Regions from separate parts of the Homo sapiens genome. Here region 1 is linked to region 2. The links come from fine-mapping of genetic effects on gene expression. A gene starts in region 2. The other region holds a variant in brackets. All regions are shown on one strand. Distances are between the middles of the regions. Region 1 holds the start of BGN (biglycan). Region 2 holds the start of HAUS7 (HAUS augmin like complex subunit 7).

The links. PIP is the estimated chance that this variant, and not a neighbour inherited with it, causes the effect.
Region 1: its variant is fine-mapped to the expression of HAUS7 in tibial artery (GTEx, PIP above 0.99).

What each region holds. Positions count from the first base shown.
Region 1 is chrX:153,487,053-153,503,066 of GRCh38, forward strand. BGN (biglycan) reads left to right here and starts at 7,928. Exons shown (of 8, transcript NM_001711.6): 1 at 7,928-8,061. It also overlaps a transcript of HAUS7 not described here and the pseudogene ECMXP. RefSeq lists enhancers at 1,367-2,181, 4,298-4,870. The variant G/A (reference allele first, on the strand shown) is at 8,361.
Region 2 is chrX:153,466,612-153,481,134 of GRCh38, forward strand. It overlaps HAUS7 (HAUS augmin like complex subunit 7), which reads right to left and starts at 3,965. Exons shown (of 10, transcript NM_001385482.1): 1 at 3,839-3,965; 2 at 2,535-2,650. The coding sequence starts at 3,946. It also overlaps the pseudogene ECMXP. RefSeq lists enhancers at 3,257-3,436, 3,587-3,686, 4,200-4,494, 9,364-9,903, 10,099-10,599 and 1 more and a silencer at 4,017-4,326.

The DNA.
Region 1 (16,014 bases), 21 kb after region 2:
CTCCCTCCCTCCAGGAGCTACGCTGCATGTCCTGGCTCTCCCATGTCCGTGCGGTTCCTGGGCTGCACCTGAGACTGTCAGCAAAGAGATTCAGAGGGCTTGGGTCCCACAGCTTCTCTGAGAGCCTCCCCACCCCCACCCTGCCTCACCAGGGTCCTGAAGTCCTTGCTCGGTCCCAAGCCATCAAGAGGCCAGGCTCCCCACCCTTGCTTGGGGCAGCATCTGCACCTGATCCGTCTCATCCCTATCCTGGGCCTGGACCCAAAGAGGTGGGCTTGGCTGGCAGAGCAGGAGGGTGTGGAGGTTCAGGGCACCTGCCATTGGTCCTAGAGCCACCCACACCTGCACTGAGGCCTGGGGCAGGGGCTGGTGACCACCGCACAGTGGCACCTCTCGGGAAGCCCCTTTGCCTCTCCCTTGACACCTCCCCCCCATTCCTGGCCCCAGAACCCTCATCCCAGCCCCCAACATGCACACCCACCTGCAAGAGAGGTCCCCAGGGCCCCACCCTCAGCTCACAGATGAGTAACTTGCCCAGAGATGTATGGCTGGCTTGCTGTGAGACCAGGCTGTGCCCCTATCTGACCTGGTGCCAGGGAAGGGTGGGGAGTGAGCACGTGGTCTGTGCAAAGCCAAGCCCCGCCCTGAGCACTGGGCAAGGACCACCCCTGGCCAGAGTTTCTGACTGTCTGCCTGAGCGAGGCCGGCCCTCCATGTTGACCTCCCCATGTGCCAGGAGTCCCTGGGAAGTGACAACTCAGCCCTGCCGAGCCCTGAAGACAGACTGGCCAGATATGCTGGTGGAGACACTGGGTCTGCGGAGCCCTCGAAGGCCACTGAGGCCATTGCCCCGTTGGCCTGCCTGAGTGAGGGGGCCCCTGGGAACCGGATGGGTTTCCTGGGACAGCCTCCACAGCTCTCTAGGCCACCAGGCCCTGTGCCAGGAAGGGATAGGGACAAAGGGTCACAACCGCAGGGAACACGACAGCCACTGCCCTGGGATGGGGCTCACAGAGACAGCCAGGTGACAGGCATGAAGGATGCCGCAGGAGAGGGCCCAGCAGAGACACAGCCCAGCCCCAAGGAGCGCATGGCTCCGTCCCTGTCCTCTGTCCCTCTAACTTGTGAGCCTCCAGCATGCCCCTCTGGCCCTCGCTATCCCACCCCATCACCTCAGCACCCCCATCTCGATCTGGGCACGGCCTTCCCATTCCCCGGCCTTTCTCTACCCTGGCGGGGCCGCCCCTCTCCTTCCCCTCTGCCTCCGGGCTGCTGGATGTGGGTGGAGCAGAGGAGGAAGGGCACAGGGTGTCCGCTGCAAGGACCTCGCCCCGCCATCAGCTCTGCCTAGGACCGGGGCCTGGGAACTGAGTCTCGCCTTGCTCCCATTCCATGGCCGATTCCCCCTACCCCTGCCCCCACCCCTGAGTTCTCAGTGGAGAAAGCGCCAGACTGTGGCGGGGGCGGGAGAGGCCTGGGAAGCTGTGGGCTGTTTGCTTTGGACTCGTCCCGGCATTCCTTCTCCTCCAGCTGGCCCCTCAGATATGGCACTTCCTGTTTGGGCTGGGTCAGAGGTCAGCAGCCCACGAGGCGCTGGCCCCACTCTCCCAGCTCTCACGACCCCTCCTCCCTGCCTGGCCGCCCCGGTCCCTGCGCCTCTTGCTCAGGTCACCCTGCAGCCCCCACCTTCTCGCAGTCCCAGAGGTCAGGCCCGGGAGGCACAGGAAGTGCAGGCTGGGTGAGTCCCCGACATCTCCTGCCCACTTCTTACCACTGCCCGACAGATGAGGCAGGTGGGGAGGAGAAGGGGAGGGGCCCCTCAGCTGCAGGAGGGCAGGGGCCAGGCAGGCCACCCACAGGTGGTTAATTCCACTTCTCAGAGCCTCGGCGGGGGCTAATCCTCCTGTGACCTTCCCAACTGGGGAGGCAGGGGACTCGCACTTGGGAAATGTACCTGCGGGCTCTTGGGGTCGTCACCTGGCCAAGGGAGAAGCTGGGCTGCAGCCGACCCCACAGGCCCGGCCAGGCCTCAGCCAACCTGCACTCCGAGATGGGGCAAAGGGACTGGGCCTTTATTTCCCCCTCATGACTGGGACAAGGGTGCTGTTTCCAGCCCAGGGGATTCCCCAGAGGGCCAGGAGCTCAGGGCTGGGGACTTCACTTCTTGGGGCTGTGGGAGGGCTGGTCAGAGTCTAGCTGGCACCACGAGGGAATCTCTAGACAGAGCCCCAGCCCGAGAGCAAGGGCAGCCCAGCCGTGGCCCTGCACCTGCCCCTCCTTCAGCACGGGCCACGCTCCGACACCCACTCACTCCCACCTTCTCTGTGATTACTGTGCTCCTCCTCTTCGGGGTGGCTGCTGGCTCCATCTGAGGGTACAGCAGTGGGTGCAGCCAATCGGTGACCCCAAAATGCTGGGCATCTGAGGGGACATTGCAGTGACAATTGCAATAGTGATGGCAACAGGATAGGTGTGACTAGGGTCAGAAGGGAGGCACTCATCAGTCCTCAGATGGGGATGGGGATGCTGAGGTGATGGGGTGGGACTGAGAGTAAGGACAGTGGGGACAGCTCACAATTCAGAAGGGTGGAGAATGGGGGCAAGGAGCCGTGCCCTCCCTGGGGCTGGGCCTGTGTCTCCGGCCTGAGACCTGGGTGGGACCTTGCACCTCTGCTCCGCCTCTGCCAGCTGCAGTCCCAGAAAACTGCCCATCAGCTTCCAAATTCTTCTCCAACTGCCCCTCACTGGCCCCCCACGGGCCCACCCCTCGCCTTCGCCACATTCTGTTCTGAGCCCTCCCTCCAGCCTAACACCCCCGTTCACAAGCATCTCGCCTACTGTGCCACCCTCCACCCCCTACCCCCATAATAGCTGCCACCATGGCCACACGGGGACAGTCTGGGAGATGCTAAGCTGTCTGGCCCTCAGGCCAGGTGCTATCCCACCCCATCTTCTGAGCATCTGGGCCAAAGATTGCTCCGAGCTGAAGTCAGGGCTCGGGACAGGGCCCAGCCCCTTCCCACTCCCACCAGAGCCTCCTGGTGCTGCTCCTGGGCTCTGGCCTCTGGCCTCCCTGAGGGAAGACCACAGGGGTCCTAGGGTGCCCCTGGCCTCTGGCTCCCGGACTTCGGCTTCCAAGGCAACCCATCTTCCATCCTCTGGCCACGCCCCAGACCATGCCTCTCTAAAGATAGCTAGACGCAGGCCAGGCCTCCCCGGAGCCCCCACGCAGGCCCTGAAATTACAGCCCTGGTGGCCCGGAGGGGAGAGATGCTGTGTGATTATGTCCTCAGAGGAAGGTCAAAAAAAGCTCCTGGCATGGAGAGTGCCAGCTTTCACCAGCCACACCTCGGCCATCCAGCACTGGGAAGCTTCCAGAGAGTGGAGGCTCCGCTCACTCAGCACCAGCTCAGCTGCCCCAGGGCATGTTGGCACAAGCCTCCTCCATAACCGCCCCACCCCCTGAACCCAGAGGTCCCCGCTGAGCATGAGCTTCATGCCGCTTCGAGGCCGCAGGTCATCCAGAGACCCTTGAGTGGTGATGGGGTTGCCCACTGGTGTCTGCCCCCGAGGGTGCCGACACTGGGAATGGACGAAGCCCACAGGCTCGGAGTGAGGCCCACTCAAGGCCATAAACTTGGGGCCGCTCTTGCTCAAGAGGTAACCTCGATGTGTGAGTGACAGGTCCCTGGATGGGAATTTGCCCTGGAAGCTGAGGCTCTGCAAGAGCTACTCCCCAATGACAGGCGGCCTCAGGGCACTGCCTCCTCCTCTAGAAGCTCTCCCTGCCCCCCAGTCTTGTACGGGCACATAGCACTTGTCACCTCCTTGCTTCTTGAGGGTCTTGCTGATGGTCCAGGGGGTGGGAGTGCTGCCTGTCTGCCTCGCCCACTGCAGCTCTCTGTCCCAGCTCTGTCGGCTCTCCCTCTGTCTCTCCGTCCCATCCCCAAGACAGGCATGGGCCCTTCTGTTCACACCATCAGAATGGAAGGGTGGGGAGGTTCGTGTCCAGGCAGAAGGGTTCGAGAAGCAGCCACCCACAGAGAAGAGGGCCCACTGGACACACTTGGGGAGCAGGGCAGAGGGAGCCCGGGGCCCAGTTCTTGTTTCCAGACCCTGGAGAATCATGGAACAAGCAGCCCACCTCTGTAGGGGACCCCTGCATAAGAGGCCACCTCCCAGGCTCCTAGGCTCTGCCCTCTAGGACTCACACCACCCGCCAGTATTTCATGCCCAAATGGGACCAGAGAGCTCACAGCCTGCCCTCTGGGCGCCCCCACCCTGCTTCTCTCCTGGGCCTCCCTGCTGTAGCTTTGAAGACAGGGCACAAACAGCTGCAAGCCAGCTGTGGGGGACAGGCTGCAGCTGACTCCAGGTCCTCTTCCCCACACTGGCCAAGGAGATGGCAGCTGGCTTAGATCCCTGCGCCCTGCCTCCCCTCCTCCCAGCCCCCTTCTTCCGTGGCCCTCTCCCTCCCTCAGACATGTCCTTGTCCCATCCTTCCGTCCCATGGCTGCCGCCCCACCTGCTACCTTCCAGCAGCCGTCCTGGGCGCTGTCCCAGGCAGGCTGGGGTGGCAGCTGCCTGATGAGGCCTAGACCAGAGTTAGGCTCAGAGCAGGGAGACCACAGTGTGGCCTGGGGCCCTGTGCAGGGGCAACTGCCAGGGCAGGACAGCTTTCCCTGCAGGGAAGCCTGAGCAGGCTGCCCAGGGCTGCCCTCCCCACGCAGCTGAGGGGGTTGGGCTCCTTGTCAGGTGGAGAGAGCTGAGCTCTCGGCTCCATCCGGCAGGAGAAGGGGTCTCCCGGGCTGGGATGCAAGGCAAGGCTGGTGCCAGCAGGACCTTCTGGCCCTCTACAGCCTTTTGGGGGAAGCATCCCAGCTAGGGCCTAGGGGGCCTGTGCAGTGGCATCCCAGGGTCACATACAGGCCGTGCTGGAAGGGGCCGGGTTCTGCTTCCCCCACCTCCTGCTCCCTGTCTGCCGCGGGTTCCTGGGGAGCTAAGACAGCTGTGTGTCCGCCTCCTCCCCAGGATCCCTGAGGGCCTCAGGAAATGCCTGCTCTTCCTTCCTGCCTTGCGCCCCCCGTGCCTGCCTTCCCCCTGCTTCCCCCTGCCTCCTCCCAGCCCTGAGAGGCCAGAAGGGCAGAAGGCTGCCCGCCCGCCAGCTCTGCTCGCTAGCAAGGAAGCACTGTTCCTAGAGCACTTCAGCTGGGATCAAAGTACCTTCTGCGCTGCAGAGAGAGCCCAGGCCTGAGGAGGGGGGAGTGGGAGGGGGAGCAGAAGGGGGAGGCCCTAGGACTGAGGTACTGCCTGTCTGGTCTGGGAGTGGCCCCCAAATTAGAGGGCCAGGCCGAGTGACTCAGTGGGCCCTAGCCAGGCCGAGTGACTCGGTGGGCCCCGGGCCGGGCGTGCAGTTATGGCTTATTGCAGACTGCAAACCACAGATACAAAAACCTTCCAGGTACAAGGACCGTATTTATATGAGTATTGCCCCCAGAAGCAGCCCCCAACTTCAGGTAAGAGCTGCAAGGTGCATGCATAATGTGTCTCCCCCAAGCAGGGTGTCGCCTCATCGCCACTTCCAAGCCCCCATCCAGGAACATGCCTGGCTGAGACCTGAGGGTGAGGTCGGTGCAGGGCCGGACTGCAGCGCCGCCTGGCTCCCCTGTGTCTCCCCACACCCCCCCGCACGTGTGCTCTTCCTTCCACCGGCAACTTCCCTCTTCCCTACTGGTCTGCTCCAGGTCACCTCCTCCAGGTAGCCCTCCCGAGCCTCTGGCACTGTGCATGGCCCTGCGCCCCCACGGTATTCAGAGCTGTTTCACCCCCACTGGGACTCCTGGAGGCTGAGGCCCTGAGTGACAGCTCCTGGGTTCTCAGTCCCCAAGCAGTGCAGGAAGGTACTGGGTACCAGCACCTCGGGCAGCAGGCATGCCTTGAGTGGGTTTCTCCTTTTTTCTGAAACGGCTTTACTGAGAGTGGCTGTGCTTACCACACGATTTGCGCATTGAGCACGTACAAGGCAAGGGCTTTTATATGGTCTATTCACAGAACTGTGCAACCATCACTCAGTCGATTGTAGAACATTTTCATCACCTCAAAAAGAAAACCCATACCTTTAGGTACCACCCCTCTAGCACCCACTGCCCACAAATCCGCTTTCTGTCCCCACAGATGAGCCTAGTGTGGACATTTCAAATGAATGGAACCAGAGGCTCTGCGGCCTTTTGCGACTGGCTGCTGTCACTGAGCGGAATGTTTCCAAATGCTTCTCTCTCCACCCAGACTGCTAGTCAGGCTTCGCTGCCTGTCCCGCTCTCTACCGACATATTTCTCCACGAATGAGTTGGCAGTGGGGGAGGGAAAGAGGGTGGGACAGAGATGAGACCAGGCTGCCAAGAGTCGGACGCTGAGGCTGGGCAAAAGGTAAAACACACAAACCTGCCGAAAGACAAGCCATCTCCTTTGTCTGGAAAGGGCATATGTGGTCTCCAATCTCCTCATTCCAACCATGAAATCAAGAGAGAACCAGGGTTACCAGCCTGGCCCCTGGTTTCCCACGTCTCTCTTCTCCCTGGCCCAGTCTAGAAGCTTCTTGCAGGCAGGTACCACAGTTTGGTCAAGGTGCCATGCGTCCCAGGTCCTAGCCAGGCCCTGGGCTGCCGCTGGTGAACAGGAAGGGGGTCTGTGCCCTGCCATGCCCCCAGGTAGAGCTCCCCTGGGAGCATCCTCCCTGGCCTGGGACCTCCCAGACCCCACCCCCCGGTTGAGTGATGGCACTGCCAGGGGTTGAAGACCCTCAGCCCTCGACGTTGTCCTCTCTCCATTGGATGCCGCCTCTCTCTAGCCACCCCTCTCTCCCTCTCTGCCCCTTCGAGCTTTTTCTCTCAATATGCAATTTTCTCTTTTGGTCTTCCGCACTCTTGGCCCCCAGTTCTATTGCAGATCTGTTTCTCACTCCATCTAAACTCTTACCCCTGTGTCTCAGGAGCTGCTCTTGCTGAGGGAAGAAGGGGACACTACGGGACAGGGGGGCAGTGTCGTACTAAGGACCTGGGCTCTAGCCACTGGAGGAACTGGACTCATTTGGGCCCTCAGGAAGCGGCTGAGTCTTGGTGGGGTAACCCGGTTAGCCCCCGTAAGTGACCAGCACAGGGCTGAGCCCAGAGGAAGTGGCCACCCACAGAGTGGTTCTCATGTCCGAGGGGACCTGCAGGGATTGAGCAAGAAGACTGACTCGCTGGATCCTTCGTCTCTGAATCAGTTCAGGGCAGGCAAGCTGGGGAGCCCCCTGCCCCGTCCTGCCACCACCAGCCGGATCGGGCCCTCTTTTTAAGGGAAGAAAGTCTGGAGTGGAAGGGAGGGCACAGGGCGCCAGGAGCCTACATGAAGTCCTTCCAGAAATCCACAACAGCTACCTCTCTGATCCTGGAGAAACCACCTCCTTGCTTAGGCCCAAGCAGGTTCCTGGCAGGCTCAGGACCAAATTCCAGGGGCCACTCATGGGCCTAGCAGCCCAAGGCCGCCTCCCCCTCGTCTTTCTTCCATCTCTCTTTCCTCTGCCTGGCGAGATGCCAGCCAGCACCTCAGTGTCCCCATCTGGGCAGTGGAAAGTTTGACTCTCTGGGTCCTTGTTTGAGTGAGTGCGAGTGTGTCCGTTCCTTTGCTGTCTGCCCCAGGCGGGGGAGGGGGGGGGAGGTGGTGGGGGCGAGGGGGCGGGGGCTCAGCTAGTCCAGCCGTCTACAAGAAAATTGCTCCCTTTGAAGCTGCCAGGGGGGCCGGGAAGCCTGCCCCCTCCTGCTCGCCCGCCCTCTCCGCCCCACCAGCCCCCTCCCTCCTTTCCTCCCTCCCCGCCCTCTCCCCGCTGTCCCCTCCCCGTCGGCCCGCCTGCCCAGCCTTTAGCCTCCCGCCCGCCGCCTCTGTCTCCCTCTCTCCACAAACTGCCCAGGAGTGAGTAGCTGCTTTCGGTCCGCCGGACACACCGGACAGATAGACGTGCGGACGGCCCACCACCCCAGCCCGCCAACTAGTCAGCCTGCGCCTGGCGCCTCCCCTCTCCAGGTAGGGCTGGCTTCAAGCTGCCTCCTCAGCAACCCAGAGATGCCCCTGGCTCTGCTGCCTCCGCTGTCCCAAGCCCTGGTCCTGCTGTCCCCAGTGCCGCGAGGGTGTCCACAGATTTCCCCGGTGCTCTCTGTAGGCTGCTGATCCACGCCCCTTCATCGCCACCCTGCGGCCCCCTTGGTCCCTGTCAGGCTTCTGCCTCGTCTCGCCGCCCTCCAGGCACCTTTCCCTCACCCCTTCCTCTCCCTCTCCCTTCTGACCTTGCTCTGCTTCATCCACCTCTTGTCTCTCTGCCTCCC[G/A]CTCGGGGTCCGTCTTCTTGGCTACCACCCTAGAGCGTGGCTGGGTGACTGGTACCCCAGCTTTGCCAATGGCCCTGTTTCATCATTGCAAGTCCCAGGCGCATGCTCCACTCCCTCAGCCTCGCTCTGCCCAGGCGCCTCCTTGCTCCAGGGCTTGGCGCCTGGCCCGGGTTGGGTCGGATCGGGGAGGACCGCCCAGCGCCCACCGAGCTCAGCACCCAGGAGCAGTCCTCCGCTGCACTGCCTGAGGCCAGTCCTTGGCATGGGCTGAAAGACTTAGTTTCCCAGGCACACCCCAGGCACCCTGCCCAGATGTTCCTCGCTCGCTCACCCCCAGGTTAATGCTCTGCCTCTACATCCTCTGTGAGAAGTCTGGGTCCTGGGAGCCCTGGCTGCAAGGGCCCTGACTGGGGGTGCCTGGGTGGCTCAGCCCTGTCTGTTTCCAGGACCCCCTTGGACTGGGACTCAGAATGGGTGTGGAGGGGAAGGAGAGAAAATCAGGCAACTGTGCCATGCTCCCCAGGGCGGACCTGGCTTGGGGTCCCAGAGGGGCCTGCCAAGGGACCCAGGAGAGGGAGCGAGAGAGTGCCCTGGAAGGCCCACGGAGGGGAGCGCCCCCTCACTGCTCCATGGGCGGGGCTGGGTGCCTGAGCGCCTGCTGAGCAGAGCAGGGGGCCCAGGGATCTGCAGGGCACAGGGTACATCAGTCTCCAGTGGTCTGTCTTGGTGGGCAGGCCTCTCTCCTGCTGTCCTGGCTGCCAGACTGCTCAGGTCCCATCCTCAGGGGGTCCTGTTTCTGGGCCCTCGCCCCTCCCTGGCCTGCCAGCTCTCTGCCCTATAGCAACTAATTGGAACTGAGACAAGCTGGAGATGCTCAGCCCCCCTGCCCCCGTGCCAGAAAGGCTCCCGGGGACCAGCGCCCAGGGGTGCGGGTGAGCACCTCCTGGTGACACCCAGCCGCCGGTGCCAGCCGCACCCCAGGAGAGCTGGTGTATGAGCATGGATGTCTTGGTGCGGAGCATGCCCATGTATGGCCACTGTGGGCCAGCATGGTGAGCCTTTGAGGGCAAGCCCGTGTGGGTATATTGAAAGGAAGATGCAGGGCTGCCTCCAAGCCACCAGGGCTGGGCGGTGGGAGCAGGTTGCGAGCCAGGGAGCAGAGAGGGCTCCCATGGCAAGCTGGCCAGCTGTGGGTGGCAGCCCTGGCCTCCCTGGCCCACCTTCAAGCCCCAAGGACCCGTACGGCAGTGGGCATTAACCCTACCAACGCATAGATGGGGAGTCTGGGAAAGGAAGGGGGGTGTTTCCAAGGCAAGAATGAGTTTCCTGTCTTTAGCAACATTCCAGAGTCACTCAAACAAAGCTATAGCGTGTCCCTTCCAGTGACAGCGCCAAGTCCCCAGAGGAGGGGTTTGTAATGAGTTCACACTTGACAGTTAGCACTCAGAGCCTTCAGCAAGGGCTTCTGAGTCCTTGCCACCCCGTATAGAGGTGGGATGAGGACCTCCCCACCTGCCGTCTCCTGTGCTTCCCGGGCCCACCCCCCACCCCCCACCCCCCAGCATCTCCAGCCTGCCCGGGAGTCACATGTCCTCGGCCCACAGAATCCCCAGCACACGCCCCACCCACAGGCCTAGCCCCAGCCCTGGGGTCCCTGGCACCCCACCTGCCAGGGCCCCTCCCCTGCCTTGCTCACCCCCCAACACCCCTGCTTGTCGGAAATGTCTTCCCATGCCCACCACGACCCCCTCCCACTCATCTGTGGGCCGGAGAGCTTGGTCCCTGCCGCACGTTGCCCCCCTAGCATCCAGGCCCACCACCGAGCCCCCGACAGGCCTGGGAGCCCCACTGGTGGGTGGGGACCCACCAGCTGGGGGTCTTGCTCACACCGAGGGGCTGGGGGTGGCGGTGGCTTTCCCAGGGCACCCTGCCTTGGGCTGCAGGCCGCTGGGTGGGCACCGGCTCCCTCGGAAGGCAGCGCAACCCGGGATCCTGCCGGCCCTGGCCCCCACCCTGCCGACCGGGCCTGGGGCGATCAGTGCCCCAGCTCCTGTCCTCTTCTGCTCAGATGCTGGGTTGGGAGATCAGGGGCCACAGCTCGGCCACTCAGAGCCCTTTCCGCAAGTCTTAGAGGGACCAGCTGTGGGGTGTGTGCAGAGGGGCTGCGCTGTGGGGAGGGCGCATGGCTCAGTCCTCCTGGCCTGAGGCCCGCCTAGCCTAAGTGGCCTCCAGGACCCATGGCCAGGCCCTTCTGCAGCCTTCCAGAAAGAACCAGCTTCCCAGGGTTCCCTGGGGAAGGCCTGGGGCCACCTCCTCTGGAGGGGTGGGGCCTGTGCTTCATTCCTCCTTCCCCAGGTCCCCTTCCAGGCCAGAAGATCCCCTCCACCACTTGAATCCCACAGCCAGAAGCCCCTTCTGGGACTCTAGACTCCTGGGAACCATCCCAGCTGCCCCCTTCGCTGTTTCGCTGTTTGCCTTCTTCCCCTGCCCCGTCATGGCTCTAGGTCAGAGCAGCCTCTGGGGTGGCTATGGAGGGGCCACCAGCCTTGGCTCTTCCGAGGACTGCAGAACCCTCCCACTCCCAGCTTCCCACCTGCGCAGCTCTGATCCCAGCCAGCCCAAGGGGCAGGGTCAGGTCCCGGCTCCCTGGCAGGCCTGGTGAAGGTGCTGCCCATTCCCATGAGGCTCATCTCTGAGGCTTAGGGGCCTGGGGCTCTAGCCAGCCTTCTTGCATGGAACTCTCCTGGTCCACTGCATCTTAAGCCTGAGCTCCACTTAAACACTGGCCTGAGATAAGCTGGAGGACCAGGGGCCCAACGGACTCTGTGGGCCTCTTGAACTTGCCTCTGCTGGCCATCCCAGTCCTGTTTGGTCCCTGAGGTGTTCAGATGGGCCAAGGGGAGCATGGCGGGCAGACTCCTGGGTGGCCAGAAGATTAGAAGGCAGCCCTGTCCCTGGAGGCAGGGGAAGTCTGGGAAGCCAGTGTGACTTCTATCCTCTGGAAGTCTGAGTCCCTGCTTGGCCTTGACTGCCATCCCATGGTTCTTGGAGGCTGCCCTCATGCAAAGAGACACACACCCATGGGAGCCCAGCAGTCCCAGGAGCCTGAAGCTAAGCAGGCTGTGGGCCACCCTGGCTGGCTGAAGGAGGCTAATCCCAGCCCAGCCTGAGCCCCCGGCAGAGAGCGGGTTGCGGCAGGGAGGGGCTGCAGGAAACCTTCCCCTCCCCTCCTGGCCTTGGTGGGCCTGTACCAGGGAGGGAGGGAGGCAGGGCCCCAGGCTCTGGGGGGCAGGCCGGGAACACCTTCCCTGGGGCCCTGAAGTGCTCGCCTGGGGAGACGATGGCTTTTCCAGGAGACTCCCTGCAGACAGAGGCAGAGGTGAGAGGCTGGGCGGGGGCTGCCCTGCTGGCTGTGTTGGGGCTGAGGAGGGGCTTCTGGATCTGTGGGCCATAGGGAGCTACTGATGGTCCTCAGAAGGGCCATGCTTCCAGGGGAGCCCCCTGCACAGCCCCGAGAGTGTGAAGCGTGTCAGCTTTGGGGCCTGTGGCACTGTGTGCATTGGGAGAGGGTGGGTCCAGACATGGGGGCAAGGACACAGACGGACAGACAGACAGTGTGTGCAGCCCCAGCTCTGCTGTTTCCTCACCGTGTGGCCTTGGGCAAGAGTTTGGGGCCAACTTCCTGAGCCTCAGTTTACCCCTTCATCAAGTTCTAAGAGCATTGCTTCCTTCTTATAGTCAACGGGGGACGGCAGGATGCTAAGTAAAGAAATCACATGAGTCCCCTGCTCTGCCTCTGAGAGGTGACAGCATCCTCCCTTTTCCTTGGAGACTCTAGCAGGAGGCCCCGGATCTCTTCGGAGAGTGGGAGGGGGCAGCAGTAGTCCGTGTGCAGAGGACCAGGAGCGCACAGTGGGAAGGGCTGAGTCCCGCACTCCGCCGACTGTGGGGACAGGCTGGACCTTGACATGGGCGCCACAGGCTGCAAAGGGCTGGCACAGAGAGGTGGGAGGTGGCTGGGCGCATCAAGGGAGAACTCCACCCTTGTCGCCACCCTGCCAGAAAACCTCTGGAAAGGATTTGAGCAGCAGATGAGCCGGGGTTTCCCAGCCCCTCCACACGTGGCTGCAAGGGGAGCAGACGCCCAAGCGTGGCTGCCTGAAGGGCATGCTCCGGCAACGGCAGGGGCTTGGAATGTGGCACAAGGTCCACCCCTCCCCACTCCAGCCCCCAGCCCCTCAGGCAGCCACTCCCACAGATGAACGCACACGCCGGGCTTTGGCAAGGCCAGGGAGGGTACACATCCCCTCTCTGGTTGATGCCCAAGTACAGGCTGGAGCCATCGGCGGGGAGGGACTGGTGGACTGGGGCCTGGGAGAGTGGCAGGGGGCAGGCCGGGTGTCAGCGGGGGCACAAGCACCAGGCTGCTGGTTGAAACTGGGCCCAAAAGGCTTTGGAGGCCAGAGGGGAGGGGAGGAAGGACACAGTCCCGGGGACCCCGCAGGGCTGCGTGGAAGGTGGCACATGTGTCAGAGTTCAGGTCGGGTTGCTCAGGGGGGCAGACGCCCAGGGCTGAGGCTGCGGAGACAGCATCCGGCGTCTGCCACTTGGCAGCTGTGAGCCACACCATCTGCAGGCGAGCTCCCAGGGCCCGCCAGACCTCAAGCCCTGCTCCCGCCGCCCTTGGCCTGGCCTGAATGCCTGGCACGGACCCTCCATGTTCTCAGAGGCTGCCAACGCATCTTGTTTGGCTGTGACCTCGAGCAATCCAGTGCAGAGGACTGCGCTAGCTTTCAGAGGGGCAGACAAGGAGGGCCCTATTGGGGTGGTGGCGGAGGCTCCAGGAAGCCCAGCCTCCTCCCTCACTCACACCTGCGGTCGCCAAACCTGGGGCTTATGCCATTGCCGCCCCTGTCCTTTGCTCTAAAGAGATGGTATCCAGGGAGCTCAGGGCACACTTTGGTGGGGCTTGAAACCCTCCCTGAAGTCCCTGAAGACACACCCAGAGAGGCCAATGAAGGGAAACTGAGGCCCAGAGGCCTCAGTTGTGGTGGTGGAGAGTTGAGGACTGGAGGGACTTGCTGTGGGTCTCACAGGATCTGACTATGGGGTATTCCTGCTTCCTGGGCTGGGGTCCCCGCCTGCCTTATCTATGTGTGGATATATGTGTATGTATGTGTATATGTATACATATGTATATGTGAATGTGTGTATGCATGTGTGTATAGATGTGTGCATGTATGTGTGTACATATGTGTATGCGTGTATACAGGTGTATATGTGCAGGTATGTATGTATGTATGTGTGCATGTATGCATGTGTGTGTGTGTGTACGTGTGTATAAATGTGTATGTGTGCGTGTGTGTGCATGTGTGTGCATGTGTGTATGTGTGCATGTGTGCATGTGTGTATACATGCATGCATGTGCGCATGTGGATGTACATGTGCATGTATGTGTATAGATGTGTGCATGAGTGTGTGTGCATCTGTGTATATATGTGTGTATATGTGTATCATATGTGTATGTGAATGTGTATACATGGGTATGCATGTGTGAGTGTCTAGGTGTGTGCATGTATATGTGTGTACATGTGTGTATAGGTGTGTGCACGTATATGTGTGGATGTGTGCATGTATGTGGATGCATGTGGATGTGTGTACATATGTGTTTTGTATAGGTGTGTGCATGTGTGTGTGCACGTGTGTACATATGTGTTTTGTATAGGTGTGTGCGTGTGCACGTGTGTGTATGTGAGCGTGTATGTGTGCATCTGTGTGTGTGTTTGTGTGTGTATGTGTGTACGTGTGTGTGTGTGCATGTTCTGGCAGGAGGGAGGGGCTTGGTGTGAGGTGGTGGGGAGAAGGCAGGGGCCAGGCTTTGGGAGGACAGCTGAGCCTATACTGCCAGGACCTCCCAAACTGCCACCCCCAGTCTTGGGCATTCAGGCTCTCACAGGCCCAGAGACATGGCTGGAGCCCTGTGGCTGAGGAGCACAGCTGAGAGCTCAGGCGGGGCCTGGAGGCGCCAAAGCTGAGTTCCAAGTCAGGCTGAGTGACTTGGGAGAAATCAGAGCCTCTCTCTCGGCCTTAGCTTTTGTGTCCATAAAATGGGGATACTCATCAGGCCAGCTCCAGGGGATCCTATCCTTCCCCCCAGGCTCCCCTGGCTCCCTCTGACTTCATGGGCCCCTTGCTGCCTCCTGTGGGCTCAGACACGGAGCCTGCCCCTTCCTCGGGAGAGGTCTCAGTTTTGTGCCAGTTCTTTGAGGGGAAATGAGGGATGTGCCGGGAAGCCTGCCCGGCCCCCGCCCCTCCAGCCTGCCCACTGCTTGGGCACAGCCATGAGCCATGGAAAACCAGCCAAACCTTGTCCTTCTGCCTCTGTCACGGGGCCCGGGTGTATGGGCCTTCCAGCCCTCAGCCTCCCTCCCCGCTCTGAGGGAACCTCTTCCCCTTGCCCCTTTCTCAGTCTCTTGGAGACCCCCCAGACATCCTACTGTATCAGGCAGCCTGCCTCCAGAGCCCTCGTTGCCCCACAGCTGGTCCCGGGAACCCGCCTGAGACCCCGATGGCCAGTCTTGCCGTGACTGGCCTGCCCTGTGCCTGTGCCCCCTGCCCTGGTGGAGGGCCCGATTCCCTAACAGGAGGGCCTGCAGGGAAGTCCCAGCTCCTGGGGAGACCCCTTGCCCCGGGGCAGGAGTCCCTGTAGAGTCCTCCTCCAGGCCAATGCGTGGGTCCTGGGGGGCTCCAAGCTGGCCATGGTCAGATGGTCCTCTGTCCCCTCGGCCTTCCCCAGCCCCTCCCCACAGCCTCCCGTAGGCCCAGCCGGACCACCCCAACCCTACCTGTCCAGGTGGACTGCCCACCCTGGAGCTTGCCAGGGCTCTGGCGGGGTGTCCCAGCCCTGACTCACTCTCCCTGGGAGGTAGCGGCTTTGGCAGGGGCATCGGCAAGGAGGGGCAGGGCAGTCTCCTCCCTCCCCCACTCCATCTTGCTCTCCTGCTTCCACCCTGCCCTTCCTGTTCTCTCCCACTGCTCCTCCTCCTCCTCCTCCTTCTGCCCCCGGGTGTCCACTGGCACTGGGAGAGGGTCCTACAGCGGCAGCAGGCATCGGAGGCCCTGCCCTGCCCTGGAGGAAGGGAAACACCATCCAGGTAGGTGAGTGTTGAGCCTTCTCCCTACTTGGGGGCCAAGACCCTCCGGGCGGTTCCCCTAGGTTCTGCTGGGCCGGCCTGAGGCTGGCAGGCCCTGGGCTGCAACTGTGGGATCTCAAGGCTCAAAAGAATGAGGGAGGCTCGGTGCTGCCCCAGCAGGGGCCTCCTGGTGACCCCAGGGGTCAGCATGAAGTCCAGCTCCACATGAGGGGGAAGCTGAGCTAAGCCTTGGGCTCCGACTCCCACTTTGCAGTGTGGCCCAGGGCCTGTGGGCTCAGGAGGGCTCCGGGGCTGGCTGCGGAAAGGCCACTCCACAGGCCTGGCAGCCGCTATAGCCACAGCCTCACCACAGGCCCCTCTGTCCACAGGTGTGGGAGGGCGCATGGGTGGCTTCTAGGGGGGATGCCAATGCAGGGGGGACGCGTGCCAGCAGATGCTCCCTGGAGCACCCGAGGAGCTGCATGGGGGCGACAGGACAGGCCTCCATCCCAACCCTCTCC
Region 2 (14,523 bases):
TTCACAGGAAAACTCCCATCCATCTGATTCTCCTGTAGGACCCTCAAAAGGCCTAAGGAATTCTCGCCAACCTGAAATCAGACAACGTCATCGTATGCTCCCTGGCAGCTTTTTCAAAGGATTCGGTTTCTGGTATTTACAGAAGTACTACAGGTTGAATATCCCTAATCTGAAAACCTGAAATGCTCCAAAATCCTAAACTTTCTGATCGCCGATATGACGCTCAAAGGAGATGCTCACTGGAGCATTTGAGATTTCGGATTTTCAGATTAGGGACACTCGACCAGTATAATGCATATATTCCAAAATCCGAAGAAATCGAAATCTGAAACACTTCTGGCCCCCAGACATTTTGGATATGGGACACTCAACCTGTAGAAGCATCTGAGGGGCGTGGCTTTGGCCTCCTACCCGTCCCTCTCTGGCCAGATGACCCCAGTTCCCCAAGTGCCCCCAGCTTCCACCTGAGTCAGGCAAATCTGCGCCCCCTCCCACAAGAGCCTCCTCCTGGGAGCTCGCTCAAGACCCTCACACTCCACCCAGCCATCTCCAGTCCTGCCTCACCTCCCAGCCTCCCAGGTTCCCAGGCCAGGGGCTGGTCCCTCCAGGGCCAGTAGTGGCTGCCAGACAAGCCATCTGCCACTCAGCGCAGGGCTCCTTCTGTCTTTCCCTGGGGTATTGGTCTCCCTGCCTGCAGCCATTGCCCTCCAAATCCATCTGCCACAGAGCACCCTGAGTCACCTTACCAAAATGCCAATCTCAGCACGTCGCTCCCCAGGTTCCACGCCTGCCCTGCCCAGAACATAAAGCTCAAAGGCCTTGGCACAGCATGCAAGGCCCTGAGGGAGCTGCCCTGAGCTGCCATTCCAGCTGCTGCTGCCCAGCTCTCTCTCCCACACCTCAACTCCCTGCTCCTGTCCAAACGAGCACCCCGCTGTTACCGTCCCCATCCCAGATCAAATGCCACCTCCTCCCTGCCAACATCCACAGCACCCAACTCAGACTGCAGTGCTGTGCATCATTTCTGCTGAACCCCAGGACTTGTACCCACTAAATACCCAGCTCCTGAGGACACCCAGTCACGTCTGCAGCGCGTGGAATGGCACACAGGTGCAGCCTGGAGAACCCCCCGACTGCACGGCCACACCATGCTGCGGCTCCCATACTAAAGAGCCGGAAATGACAGCAGGCCAAGAGTGCACCCACAGGTTGAGGGCTCCAGCAGGGGCAGGGTGTGCTCAAAGGCTGTGGGCATCCAGAGGGAAGCGGAATACATTCTGCCCTGGGAACAGGAAACATTTTAAAAGGAGACAGGACGTGTGAGTTGGGTCTTTGCGGGCTGTACAGGAGGACGTACGACATGCAGAGACTAGAAGGCCATTTCCAGGAGGGGGAACAATGTGAGCAAGAGCAAAAGGTTATGAAGCGAGGAGCTGCTGTGCTGAGCCCTGGGGAGAGGCCTGAGGAAGGGCCTAGAAGGCAGAGGCAGGAGACGCCTCTGGAACAGCAAGGGCTCAAACACAAAAACGCCTCCTCCTTCCTCTGGGGGCCTGTATCCAGCTGGGCGTCCTGCTGATGTCTCTGGTCCTGGCGGGCCAGACCGGCTGGATGCAGGTTGGCTCCCCACTGCTCTACTGCCAGGCTCCCGCCCAGGCCCCTTCCTCAAGCAGCAAGGGTAGGCAGGCCGCAGGCTGAGGAGGGGGAGGCCCGGGCCTGGACTCACGAGAGGCTCCTGTACCAACAGACTACAGCTGTTCCTGAGCATGGCCTGGGCACACACCCAATCCCACAGGAGCCTGTGCTCTGTGGGAGGCGGGGAAAGCCTTCTCCACTCACAGCTGTGAGGCAGTGAGACAGACCCTCAGCTCAGGGACTACGTCACCAGGGGAAGGATGTCTGCCCTGGGAATGGGACACTCTGGATCATTTCCTCCACCATCACTCAGGAAGTCACCCTGTCACCATGGGCTTCATAGGGTGCCAGGCACACACCATGCTACACCCTGGCCCAAAGGCACCAGAGGACTGGGAAACGGGTCACGGCACAGAAGCTGACAAGAGGTGACACTGCATGAGGACCACTTGGCCAGCTGAGACCCAGCCAGGAGCCCACGCCCTGGCCCTGCCTGTCACTCCTCCACTGGGAGACCAGAGACTGTTCATGCCTCCAGCCTGACCCTTGGCTTCCGGGTCTGAGAAGGAAAGGACTGGAATGGAGCATTTCTCAGGTGCCTGCCAGTCCTGAACCTCCAAACTCATAAGGCAAGGCAAACGCTGAGGGCAAGTTCAGCACTGCAGCAAAGGGGTGGCTGGACTAGCCCAGCACCGCCAGGGGCCACTTTGCCCCAAGTTTGATCATGCCTGTCACCAGTACTCCTTACCTACACAGCTGTTCTCACGAGGGTCCAGGCTAGGGGGTGGAGCCCTCTGGGAAGACAGCTACTCACAGTAACCACAAACCCCATCTTCCCCAGGTGGGGCTGGCTGGCGCCCATGCACACCCCAGGTGGGAAGAGGAAGAAACTGATGCATTACCGGGTACACATCCACTCTAGGATCTCCAAGCGGTACTCTGAGGGGCTGCACAGCAGTTCCTGAATTGTCTTTGGCTCTGTGATATACAGACCCTCGAGGAAGGGGCAGTTTAGGTCCTAAGCAAGGAAAAGGAAAGCAACATTCACTGAAAGTCCCAGTGTACATCATTTCATTTTATTTATTTATTTATTTTTGAGACGGAGTCTCACTCTGTCGCCCAGCCTGGATGGAGTGCAGTGGCATGATCTCGGCTCACTGCAGCCTCCACCTCCTGGGTTCCAGCAATTCTCCTGCCTCAGCTCCCAGGGTAGCTGGGGGATTACAGGCATGCGCCACCACGCCCGGACAATTTTTGTATTTTTAATAGAGACGGAGTTTCACCATGTTGGCCAGGCTGGTGTCAAACTCCTGACCTCAGGTATCTGCCCACCTCAGCCTCCCAAAGTGGTGGGATTACAGGCGTGGGCCGCCGCGCCCAGTCCTCAGTGTACATCTGCAAGCTCCCAGGACCCTTTCCTTTACCCGCGTCCTGCCATCTTGCCAAGAGTTCAAGTCCCCCCATTCTTAACCCCACATCTCCCGCGGCATGCAGACCCCACCTCTTTCAAGTACTCCCACTCTGGGCTCTTGTGGCAGCAGGACCTAGGAGCAACGCCTGAGACTAAGACTTAAGAGAGAGTCCTAGGTTTCGGGACTGAGGGAAAGGGGAGAGGGAAAGGGAGAGGGACCACTGAGCCAGTCGCGGACAGGATGGGGGAGTGTCTGGGGGGAGGAGCGAGCGGGCCGAGGGGACCTGGGACAGCTCCCTAACCTCGTGGGCCAGCTTTCCTCACTGCTGCAGTGAGGGCTCTGTCCTGTGGGGCTGTAGAGGGCTTCTGGAGGCTATCACCCCTGGCATCTGACACCAACTGACACCAAGCCCTAGTCTCGCTGACTTGACAGAGTGGCACGAGGCTCTGCCCATCTGTCCCCCCAGACCCCGCAAGATCCCTAAGGCCAGGCCTGGGTCCTCTGTGTCTGCACTTGCTCCGAGCGCCCAGCGCGGGTACTGCAGTTCCACAGGCGGTGCTGGCCCCAACTACCAGGCACGGGCCGTGGAGACAGCAAGAACGAAGGCCTGGGGCACACCAAAGGGCAAAGATGAATGATCCACAAGCACCCCCTGCTGCAAGGGAACAGGGCGCAGCCGGAACCGGCGACGGTGGCCGCGTGGCGCCGCGGACTTCCGCAGCAAGCCCTCCCGGGCCTCGGGCGGGGCCCTCCCCGGTCCCCCGCCCTGGAGTGGCTTTCTGGGCCAACAGCACCTTCAGCTTCCCGAACACCTCCACAGCCGCCCTGGACACGCTGCTGTCGCCCTCGTCCTCTGAGTAGTCGTCGCCGCCACGGCCGCAGCCAGCGTCCTGCCCCGCCATGTTTCGCGCTCCGAGCCGCGCCCCGCCCATGCCCTGGCTTCACTGGCCGGCAAGACCGCCAATCAACCTCCAGCGTTCTTCCCGCCCACCCGCCTGCGCCCACCCCCTTCCCGACCGACCCTTCCCATTGGGCGACATCTCCGCCTGCGCGGGCCCCGGGCTCCCACCCCCCGCCCCGGCACCACCCAGAGGCAGGACCACAGTGAAGCGGGCAGGGCGGACACAGGGAAGGGGGCGGGGCGGACACAGGGAAGGGGGCGGGGCGGACACCGGGAAGGAGGCGGGGCGGACACCGGGAAAGGGGCGGGGCGGACACCGGGAAGGGGCGGGGCGAACGGGCCAAGCTGGCTCTGAGTCGCAGGCCTTGCTGGCGTCGCCCCTGCTGCCGGCCGGGAATGATGATGCGTTGAAGCGAGGCTCTTCCAGGAGGGGGCGCTCCTGCCTTGGTCGGGTTCTCCTGGGCCACCACCACTAAGGGGCACCCTGGTTCCCAGGAGGACCAAGGGGAGCCTTGGGTGCAGAATGGAACTCGGACTGAAGCGTTCCTCTCCCAGCGCGGGGCTCCGTCTTCTCTTCACCATGCTCACGCTGTAGTTAGAAGGAAATTTCTTGTCACTCACCAGCTGTGTGCCTTTGAACCAGTTACCTAACCTCTCTGTGCCTCTTTGCCCTCACCTAATGGAGCTAATGAGAGCACCTTACCCACTGGGTTGCTAATGAGGATGGCAGGCGGTAATAATTCCTGTGGAATCCCTAGAACAGTGCCCGGCGCATGCGAAGAACCACGTAAATGCTCACTATTGTAATACATGCTGGGCCCTGCTCCCCTCACGGCTCCTGGGGCTACCTGTGGCTCCTTCCTATCCTGTCTACTTAACAAATTTTTCTACATCCCTCAGGACCCTCAAACTCAATGCGTCTGCAATGAAATATGTCAGTCGCTCCTCCCCCAGACCTGCAAAGCCCCCAGTTCACTGAATGCCCCTTACCCAGGGACCTGCTGATTGGGCAAGGCAGGAAGGAGTTGGAGGGTGGCTTGTGCCCAGTAGCCAGGAGACAGCAGCAGGCAGCTGCCACTGTGCCCTCCTCTGTGCCCTACCCTGCCATCTCCTGGAGGGTGGGATCAGGGGGCAAGTCTATAGTCAGGGAGACCCAGGGACCTGCTGGGAGGCAACTGCAGTCATCCAAGTGACAGGAGGGGACTTCACTCCGTCCTGGGAGGAGGGAGCGGGCAGGAGTCCGGGGGTCACAGGAAGGGACCTCAGCCTGGGAGGCCCCGACACAGGCCCAGCGAAGTGCCTCAAGGTTGCTCTCTACCCTTCCACGTGGCTGCTGCCTCAGGCCCTTCTGGTAGCTGAGGGCTGTCAAAGGCTTTGGGATTTTTTTTTAAGCGTTTTTTTCCCTCTTTTTTGTTTTTGTTTTTCTTTCTTTCTTTTTAGAAAATTTCATCTCAATCACAGCCCCAGCTCAGACATTCAAATTCTTGTGGGTTTTTCTGTGGATCTTTCCTAGGACTGGGGAATTTGGCGGAAGAAACCACGGCAGTGTGGCAGCCTCCCCCAACCCTCCCCATATTCTCTGCTCCTGAGGACCGGGAAGAAACCAGCTCCTGTGTACTCTGGAAGAAAATCTCCCTCCTCCACCCAGCTCCACGGAGCCAGTGTGCTCAACAGGCCTCCCCAACCTCAGCAGTTCAGTCTATGGGACCCTGAGGAACTGGCAGGGCCTTGAGAGGCGAAGATCATCTTGAGAGGTTATGGAGGCCATCCCCCTCATGGAGAACCTGTTGGCCAGCCCTCAGCCCCTGGAGATGGTCGCTGAAGACCCAGCAGCAGGCTGCAGCTTCCCTGCCCACGCCACCCCACCACCCACCACCCACCACCCACCACCTGCCACCCACCACCCGCCCCCAGAATCATAGCACCTCCCAGGCATCTTCCTCCGGAAAAGCTGGAGGCTGGGGAGGGAACAGAGAGGCTGCTGGGCCTCTCAGGAAGGGGGAAAGAAGGGGCCCAGAGGTAGAAGCTTCTGGAAATGTGGACTCAAGCTCAGTCCAAGAAAGCACTCCTCCCAGAAATCACTGTCTGAACACCAGCTGGCTGCCAGGAGAGGAAGGGAGCTCCCGGTCCTAGAAGGTCTACAAGCCCAGGGAGGTGGGTGGGCGGGGATGTGGAGGGTTGAGTCCTACCATGGGGGAGGGAGGGGGCACATCTCTAAGGGACATTCCAACCCAGAGACCCCAGGTTCTCTGAGGGAGGCCTGGGTGGGTCAGGAGCCAAAAATGTGGCTGAAGGACCCATTGACCTGGAGGAGGGATGTTGGGGGGAAGCTGTGGATGTGGCGGGGAAGCTGGGGGGTCCTGGTCATGGAGGAAAGTTGGCCATGCGTCCCAGCAGGGCCTCAGCCGTGTCAGTGCTTGGAAAACACGTTGGAAAATGAGACTGGTTCACGGCACTGGCCCCGCTGTGCCAGAGATGGGCTGGCGGGTGCTGGTGGCATTCGAGACCTCTCAGTTTGTGTGGTGGGCCCAGAGATATATGGCCAAACAGTTGAGCTCACCAAGTGGGCAGCCTCCCTGACCTGTGGAGGGTATTGAAAAAGTCCTCAGAGCATCCGGGCCCTGCTCTTCATATGACCTTAAGGGCAGACCCCACGGTGCAGCGGGAATCAACCAGGGACCCCCCAATCCCCCAAAGACACCGCGAATCAAAGGAAGCTGAAGTCCAAGGGCTTTCCTCTCTGCAGAGGCGGGTCTGCTTCTGGCAGGGGCTGGAGTTAGACCTGAGGGGGAGCCACCCCACCTGGGGGCGCCTAGGCCCTAGAATGCTGTCAGAGCTAAAGCCCTAGAAGGCCTTGCTCCACGGGGCCACTTCGACTCCCGGCCCTGAACCAGGGAACCTGGGGAGGAGCCTTTGAGGGACTGAAGTGTCCTCCATCACCCCCCACCCCTGGCCACTAAAGTTCCTCAGTAAGGGTGGAGAGTACCAAATGCAAGCTGTTGAAGACAAGGCAAGTGTGTGCGTGTGTGTGCGTGTGTGTGTTTTGGGGAGAGTTCAGGTCTAAGATGAGAAGCTGATCACACCCATGCGAGAAGCAAGTGGTGAGCCCTGGCATTGGGTTTGAGGGAGAAATGTGACAGAGTAATGAGGTCAGGCTCAGGACGGTCTGAGTGTGAGGCTCTCCGCAGGCAAGGCAAAGCCAGGGGGCTGCCTCTGCCTCCCCTCCCCTCCCTCCCCGTCCTGTCCTCCTCTCCCTCTTCCTTCTCCTCATCTCCTCCCTGTCTTCCTGGGACCTCTCTGCTGCTAAGCTGCCAGGCTGAGCTGTTGGTCACCCATCCACCCTGCATCCTGGCATGCAGGCTCAGTACCCAGGTCTTGCGGGCAGCCCACGCCATCTGCACCAGCCAGGAGCCCACCCGAAACCCAGCCCTATCCTTGCAGATGGGGGAAGGGATGGAGAACACGAAAGCAGGGGTGGGGGCCTTGCAAATGAGACAAGGAAGTGGCTGTAAGCTTGGGGGAGCCCTGCGGCCTGTGGCCCTAACTCTGGAGGGACCACACTGTCAACCTGGGAGCTGCCTGAAGACTCAACTCTACAACGTTCTCCTCCTAGGCCTCCGTGTTCATCTTTGGAGTCTACTGGCATATGAGAATGGAGAGGCTGCCTTGGGACCTTGGCTTCCTCTTCCTGTCACTTCTAGTCCCTATGCTGGGCCTCCTGCTTTAGGGCCCCACCCTCACCTCCTGCAGTTGAGGGGCCCTCACCTGCCCCATCCTGCCCCCAGGCCACCAGCTCCTGCAAGAGCACATTCCGCAGCGCAGTCAGCATGGTACCACCATCGCCATCACCATCGCCTCCAGTGGGCCTGGAGGTGCTACCATCACCTACCCCGCCCTGTCCCCCAGGCCACAGGCTCCTGCAAGAGGGCAGGGCCTGCGACCTAGGGCGACCCTTGCTCTGAGGCCAGAGGCAGTTGTAGGGGGTGTGGACAGAGTCTGGCTGGCAGGGAGGCAGTGGCTCAGCGGTCCATCTTTGTCCTCCTGCCCCGGGCCCCAAAAATGGGAGGGATGGTCTGGGGCCCTGGGGACCTTTGGGTTTCCCGCTTCTGCCCTCGAACTGCCTGTTTGCAGTGGACGCAACGGGAGAGGCGGGGGCGGGGGCGGGGGCGGGGGCGGGGGCGCGGGCGCTGGCGCGGGATGGGCGAGTGGCTGCGCGTGCACGCGGCTCGCGGGAGGTGGCGGGCGGGGGCGAGCGCTGCTGCACGTGCGCGGGGCGCAGCCGCGCAGGCGGCGGCAAAGGAAACGGCGGCGGGCGGGATCGCCCCCTCCGCGGGGAGACGCTCGGGTCTAGACGGCTTGGCAAGGCCGGCGGGGCTGAGTCACATGCGTCTGGAGCGGGAAGCGAGGGCGCCAGGACGGGAACACGAACGTGCCCGCTCGGAGGGCCGGCCGGGGGAGGGGGCGCCCGCCTCGCCTTCTTGCTTTGCCCGAGCTCCCCGGCCGGGCCTGAGCTCCAGCTTCTGCCCAACCTCCGTTCCCTGCCGAGGTCCTCGAAGCCCACCGGAGGGGATGGGGCGGGGCCGCTTTCACACGGAGTCCAGCGAAGCCACGCTATGGGCGGGAATGAACTCGAATTTCACACGGGCAAAGAGGGTGGGAAACTGGCCCCTATTCTGCCCCCATCCCGACCACGGCCCTGCTCCCTATGGGCTGGTCCCTGCTGCGTGCCACCCTCTGCAGTCCCCCTCCACTGGCACCCTCCACCCCATCCGCAGCCACCCTTGTCCCATTTGGGGTCCTGTGTTCCCCTTCCCTCCTTTTTCTTCTCCACCCCCACCCCGCAGCAGGCTCTCTCGCTCAGGATCACCAGGTCTCAAGCATTTAGTGCTCACCAAAGCGTCTGCAAGAAAAGTCATTTAATTGGGACCAGATCCTCTGAGGTTTCAGTAGCATTAAAATAAGATGGGTTTCCTCTAGGGAAGAGTTGCGGGCAACAGGAAGAGGGCATGGAAAATGGGGCTTTTTTCTTCTCCAAGCTTTAAGGGGGAAAGGCCCCATATTGTTACTGACATATAAGATAGCTGCAGGCGCATGTCCCCAGAGAATGCCACCCATGTGCCACACACTGCTGTCGTTTTCACTCAGACAACATGTGGAAAGCTCAAGAATGGGCCTGTTCCTTTTCTCTGGGGGTCACCCCAAGGCTGTGTCTCTGGCTGCCCTGGGCCCTGGGAAAAGGACAGGCACGTAGTAGGTGCTCCTGCAGAGAGCAGGAGAGCAGGAGAGCAGGAACAGCCCCCAGACCTTGACCCTGAGGCCCAAATGCTCCTGACCCCACCCGCTCCTCCTCGCAACCCCGCCTCCACCCTTGGCCAGCCACTATCACCTGGCCCCTGGCGGGCTCAGCTGCCACACGGTGGCTCCCACCTCCTACCCTTATGCCCCCAGTACATCTGCTCGTGCTCCACCCCACAGCCTGAGGGGGGCCGGATCCTGTGACTCCTCTGCTTAGCAGTCCAAGGTGGCTCCCTGATTCTTTCAAGGACAAAGGCAAGCCAGCCCACCGCCACAGACACCTTCCCACGGCTCACTCAGCCTGCTCCACCACATTGCTGTCATTGCCAATGCTCAAATTGGGCCCAACCCTTTCTCACCTGGGGCCTCTGCACTGGCCATCCCTCTTTTTCGGAGGGCTCTTTCTGTGGCTTTTTGCATGGCCATGGCCTCTTCACTCATGCCTCTGCCCAAATGTCACTTTCTCACGGTCCTCACCTGATCCCCTGTCAGTGAGCAAAGAATCCACTGTCCAGTCCTCGTTGATGACAGCCTTGAGGGACAAACAGCATTGCTTTGGCATCCTCCAGGCTACCAATCTGAGTCCCAGCTTGTAGAGGGTATGTGTGTGCATGAGTGTGTGAAGAGTGGGCTACATGGAAGGGAAGGGGGAGGAGGACAAGGGACAGGAGTCCCTTCCTTGACCTTAGAATCCTGGGATTGTACAACTAGAAGCGACCTTGATCATGTAATCCAGCTTCTCTAGGCGCCTTCTGGCTCTCAGATTCTAGAACTTTCTAAGGAGCCTGTTTCCACCATACTGAAATGAGAAGACTGGGGCACTGAGGAGGGAGGGAAGCTTGTTCCTGATGTCACATGGCCAGTCCGTCCATGGCAGAACTGGGAGCCCAAAGCTCTTTCCAGCAACCCTCGGGCTGCATCCCTGGTTCCTGGAAAATCCCAACAGCCCTCCCACCCTCTGCTCCAGACACCGGGCTCGGGATTACTGTTGGCTTGGGGCCTGCCTGTCTCAGCACAAGTCCGTCAGTGAGCTCTTGGGCGGGGGGGAGGGCAAGGCAGAAACTTGCCGGGAGCCTCTGGCTCTGCTGAGCCCCTGAAGGCTGGCTCTGCTCCATGGGGGTTCCTTCAAGGTCCCCACAATGGCCGGGTGCCCTGGGACTGGACAGAGTGGGCAGCAGGAGTACCACTCCCCAGGGGCCCACCCAGGTCAGCCACCAGGCTCCCGACCAGGGGAAGGGCAGCGAGGCCAGGCCTCCATGGGAGCTGGGAACTGAGAGCACCCCAGGCCTCACCCCTTCCTGCCTAGGTGGGTAGGAGCGGAGTCCCTCCCTCCTCCAGGCTGGCTGTGCCAGAGAAACCTGGGAGCAGGCTTCCCCCACCCCCAGCCCAGCTAATGGGAACCAGATGGCAGGATGTTTAGTCAGCGCCTGGGGAGCGGCGCAAACAGGGGAAATGGGTAGGGGGCCAGGATTCCAGAATCCATCCCCAGGCAGGGGGAGGGGCGGAGCCGGGGTTCCCATCACCGTCCAGTCTCCCGACCCCAGGTGCTAGGCTCAGCTCAGGCAGGGACCTACCCCGTTTCTCAGGCGATGCCTGGACCAGGAGGCAGGAGGACTGGCCTCTGGTATCGAGACTTGGGTGAGCCCCACTCCTTCTCTGTTCCTTCTCTGTAAAATGGGGGGTCGACTGTGCTCTGTCTTGCAGGATCCTGGGGCAAGCTTCACTTAGTCTTGGCAGCATACTTCAAGTCTGCCGTGCCCCAGTGCTACCCTGTCCCAGCTTCGGCAGCTGCCCCCAGGCAGGACACTGGCCCACAGCCATCCTGTGTCACCCACAGGACGCACAAGGAGATGGTGGCCTCATCCCTGACTCCAGAGGCATTTGCTGACTCCCTAGATGGTCCCTGTTTCTGGTCTGTACGTGGCAGGGTCCAAATTCAGGTCAGAAACCAGAGCCCTGGATGGCGAGGGTACCCTGGATATAGCAGAGGACCCCATGTGGCTCCTACGGGACTGTTAGCTGGAGCGGCAGCTCCTCAAGGAGCCCAGTGAAGACCCAGTTGCCAGGCCTCCTCCCCACCTTGACCAGCCCTGCACCCCTCTGGATCTCACACATTGCCTCATTGCCCCAGGATGGAGACTCCTGCCTGATGGCCCTTGCCGGCCCCTGCCCCTCCTCCACTGCTTCCCTTCTCCCCTCCACCCAAGCCTTGCCCACAATTAACTCATTTCTTAAGATCGCTTCCAAACCTAAGTCAACGCTGGACAGGGCTGTAGGAAAAGCTTCCTCAATACTGGCCCTGAAGAGCCGAGCCAGCGGTGAGATCAGTCCTCTCTGCCAGCCCCCGCCTGCCTGCTCCCACAAACCCTGGCTCCCACAGCAGAACGCGGGGTTGGGGCTGCAGGGACACCCCAGTTGGAGCAGGGACTTCCGGCAGCCCTCTGAGGGTGGCGGGCTCTAGGAACTGGAGCCAGACACCCCCTTATTTGCCCCTCACTCCACCACACGCCCCTCTGGCCCCACCCAGCAGTCCCCTCATCGAGCCCAGCCTATTTTCCACCTCATGTCATCCTGACCCACAGGTGCCCCTCTGACCAAAAGGATGCGTGCAGCCTAGGCACATCAGAGATCCCAGACTGTTGGCCAAGAAGTCTGGGGGGGACCTGTGACATGGCTTCACCCAGGCAGTGCCTGGAACACCCATGCTCCTATGTAGGGGGTCGGGACAGCCACAGAACGTCAACTCTGCCCCCTACCCCATTTTACAGAGGAGAAGGTAGAGACCTGGAGGGCAAGCAGAGGAACCAGGAGCCAGCCCAGCCCGAGGCACACCCATGCCCAAGCAGCACTGGGGTCTCAGGCACGGGAGGCATACCCTCGCCGCCTGCACTGTGCCCACAGATTCTATTTCCTCTGGAACCCGGAGGCCTCCACAGTGCTGCCCACGGCAGAAGCCCACGGCCTTGGCACCCACCCCCTCTCCTTTCGCAGCCATGGATGCAGGGCCCAGCAGCCTGCGGTGGCCGACCCGCTCTGTGGTGGGCCTCTCAGGCCTGCCACGTGTGAGACAGAAGCCCCATTCATGGAGGCCACTGGGCCAGAGCCAGCGGAGAATCAATGCGGGCCTCACAGCAAAAGGGCAGGACCGTCCGGTCTGAGGAAAGGGCAATCTGTCTTTCTCTTCAGGTGGGAGCAGTGCACGTTGTGGGGAGTTGGGGGCAAGGTCGGGGGAGGCGTTTGCTCGACAGAAGGGGGGCCTTCCCAGGGAAGGGCTGGGGTGGGCAGGGAAGACTCCAAGTGCCGCAGCCAGGGCCAGGAGCTCAGGGAGCAAGACCAACTTGTGCCGTCCGCCATCGTCCTGCCGTGGCCACCACCGTGCCTCTCCCAGCTCTCCTTCCCTCCATGGCAGCCAAGAGGAGTGTGCTGCTCCCCATCCTGGCACTGTGGGCGGGGAGCTGCTCAGGAGGGGCCCCACCAACCCCCATGGGCTTGGCTACCCTGCAGCTGCTGCCCAGCCCACCAGGGGCCCCCGACGGTGAGTAGCTGGCACCAGCAGGAAGAAGACTGCCGCAGGCTGTCCACCTCAGGCCCACTTTGGGTACTCAGGCAGGGCTGCAAAGGGCCCATGGCCCTGAGAGAGCCCTCCCTGGAGGGCGAGGGGTGTGCGCAGACTCTAGGGGCGAGGGAGGGAAGAGGCCTTCCTAGGAGCGGGCGCTACAGTGAGGCTGAGAGCGGGCTGGGGTGTGCTGGGGAGGAGTTGCTCTGGCTGCCCCAGTGCCTCCTGAGACAGGAAGAATCTCAGGTGGCTGGGAGTATAGGGCTTGGGGGTGAAGTGGGGTTGCTGGCAGAGAGGGGCTTGAGGGGCCCGAGGACATGGGCTATGAGTGTGGCCTTTGTCTTATAGGCCAGTGGTTGTAGCCACACTTGGTGGCCCTGCCCCAGGCTTGGGGGTAGGGCGGGAGGGGCCAGGTGGGTGGGTCTGCCCCTCACCCCTGCAGACAGAGCGGTGCCCCCCATGGTTGGCCCTGGTTAAGGAGGAGCTGCTCCATAGAGGACAGGAGGCATTGGGGTTATCAACATTCCTCCAAAGTGGCTCACAGACCCCTTGAGGTGGCCCCTGGGCTTGCCTAATCCCCAACAAACCCCCTGTAGCAGACACTGGGGCTTTCACTTCTAAAAGCAAATTGTGCCAGGTCGCAGCGACCCCTTCATCTCCCCAGAAGCTGTCCCTAGGAAGCACGTGTGAAGTCCTTGCTCACTAATGGGTATGGGGCAAAGGGGATGCTGGGGAAACGCCCTACCCCCCACCCTTGGGACACACTGGGGAAGTGAGGGGAGGTGGGACCCAAGGTCCCTTGAGCAGCCCAAGGCTTTCTACCCAGGGCTGCTGAAGCTCCCTGGGCCCAACCACCGGTCCAACCCCTGGGCCTAACCTATAGGCCCAGCCCCTTAGCCCTAATGGGCCTAGAGCGCCACCCACCCCCCTCCCCAGCAGTGAGGAGCTGTGTAAGTTCTGAGAGGTACTCTGGGTTACTGGCCCCAGGGGCTGGTGGCCTGCTGCTGACGGTGGGGACACTCTGTTCTCTCGCCAGTGCTCCTCAGGAGGTAAGGGAAAGGCGGGGCGGGGGGAGGCCTGGGTAAAGAGGAAGGGCGATGGGCTTTCTAGCAGCTGACAGCCCCTTGGGGAAAGGAGGCAAGGCCCCCAGCCCACACTGGCTCCTTCCGCAGGTCAGCTGCAGCCCATCCCTGGCATCGGCCACCCAGACAAGCCTGAGGCTGGGAAGCTGGACCAGTTGCGGGATCAGCCCACCCCGAAGCAGGGAGCTCAAGGAACCCCCACCCAGTCCCCCTCCACTGGCTGGAAAGCGCTTCCCAGGCCAGGGCTGGCCCTGAGGAAGGAGTCACCCCCAGTGACCTTGGAGCAGGAGCAGGGTCACAACAAGGGCCTGGTCGCTGAGTGGGCTCAGCCCCAGGCCACAGCTGCCATGAGGGCTGGGGCAGGGAAGCCCGAGGCCTTGAAGCTGAGGCCCTGGCAGGCCGGCAGGGACCCTCAAGCTCAAGAGGGGGCAGCAGTCACCGAGGAGGACCAGGGCCAGAGGACAGGAGGCCGGGAAGACAAGGGAAGGGGCCTGAAACCCAGGAGGCCCCCCAAAGGTGAGAACTGGCCAGGACAGGCGGCCTTCAGGTGGGGCCTGGGGCCTGCTGGGGCTGACAGGACCACGCATGAGTTTGGCCACCCAGGCACTGCCCCGTTCCCGGTGTTTCCAAGCCAAGTGCCCTCGT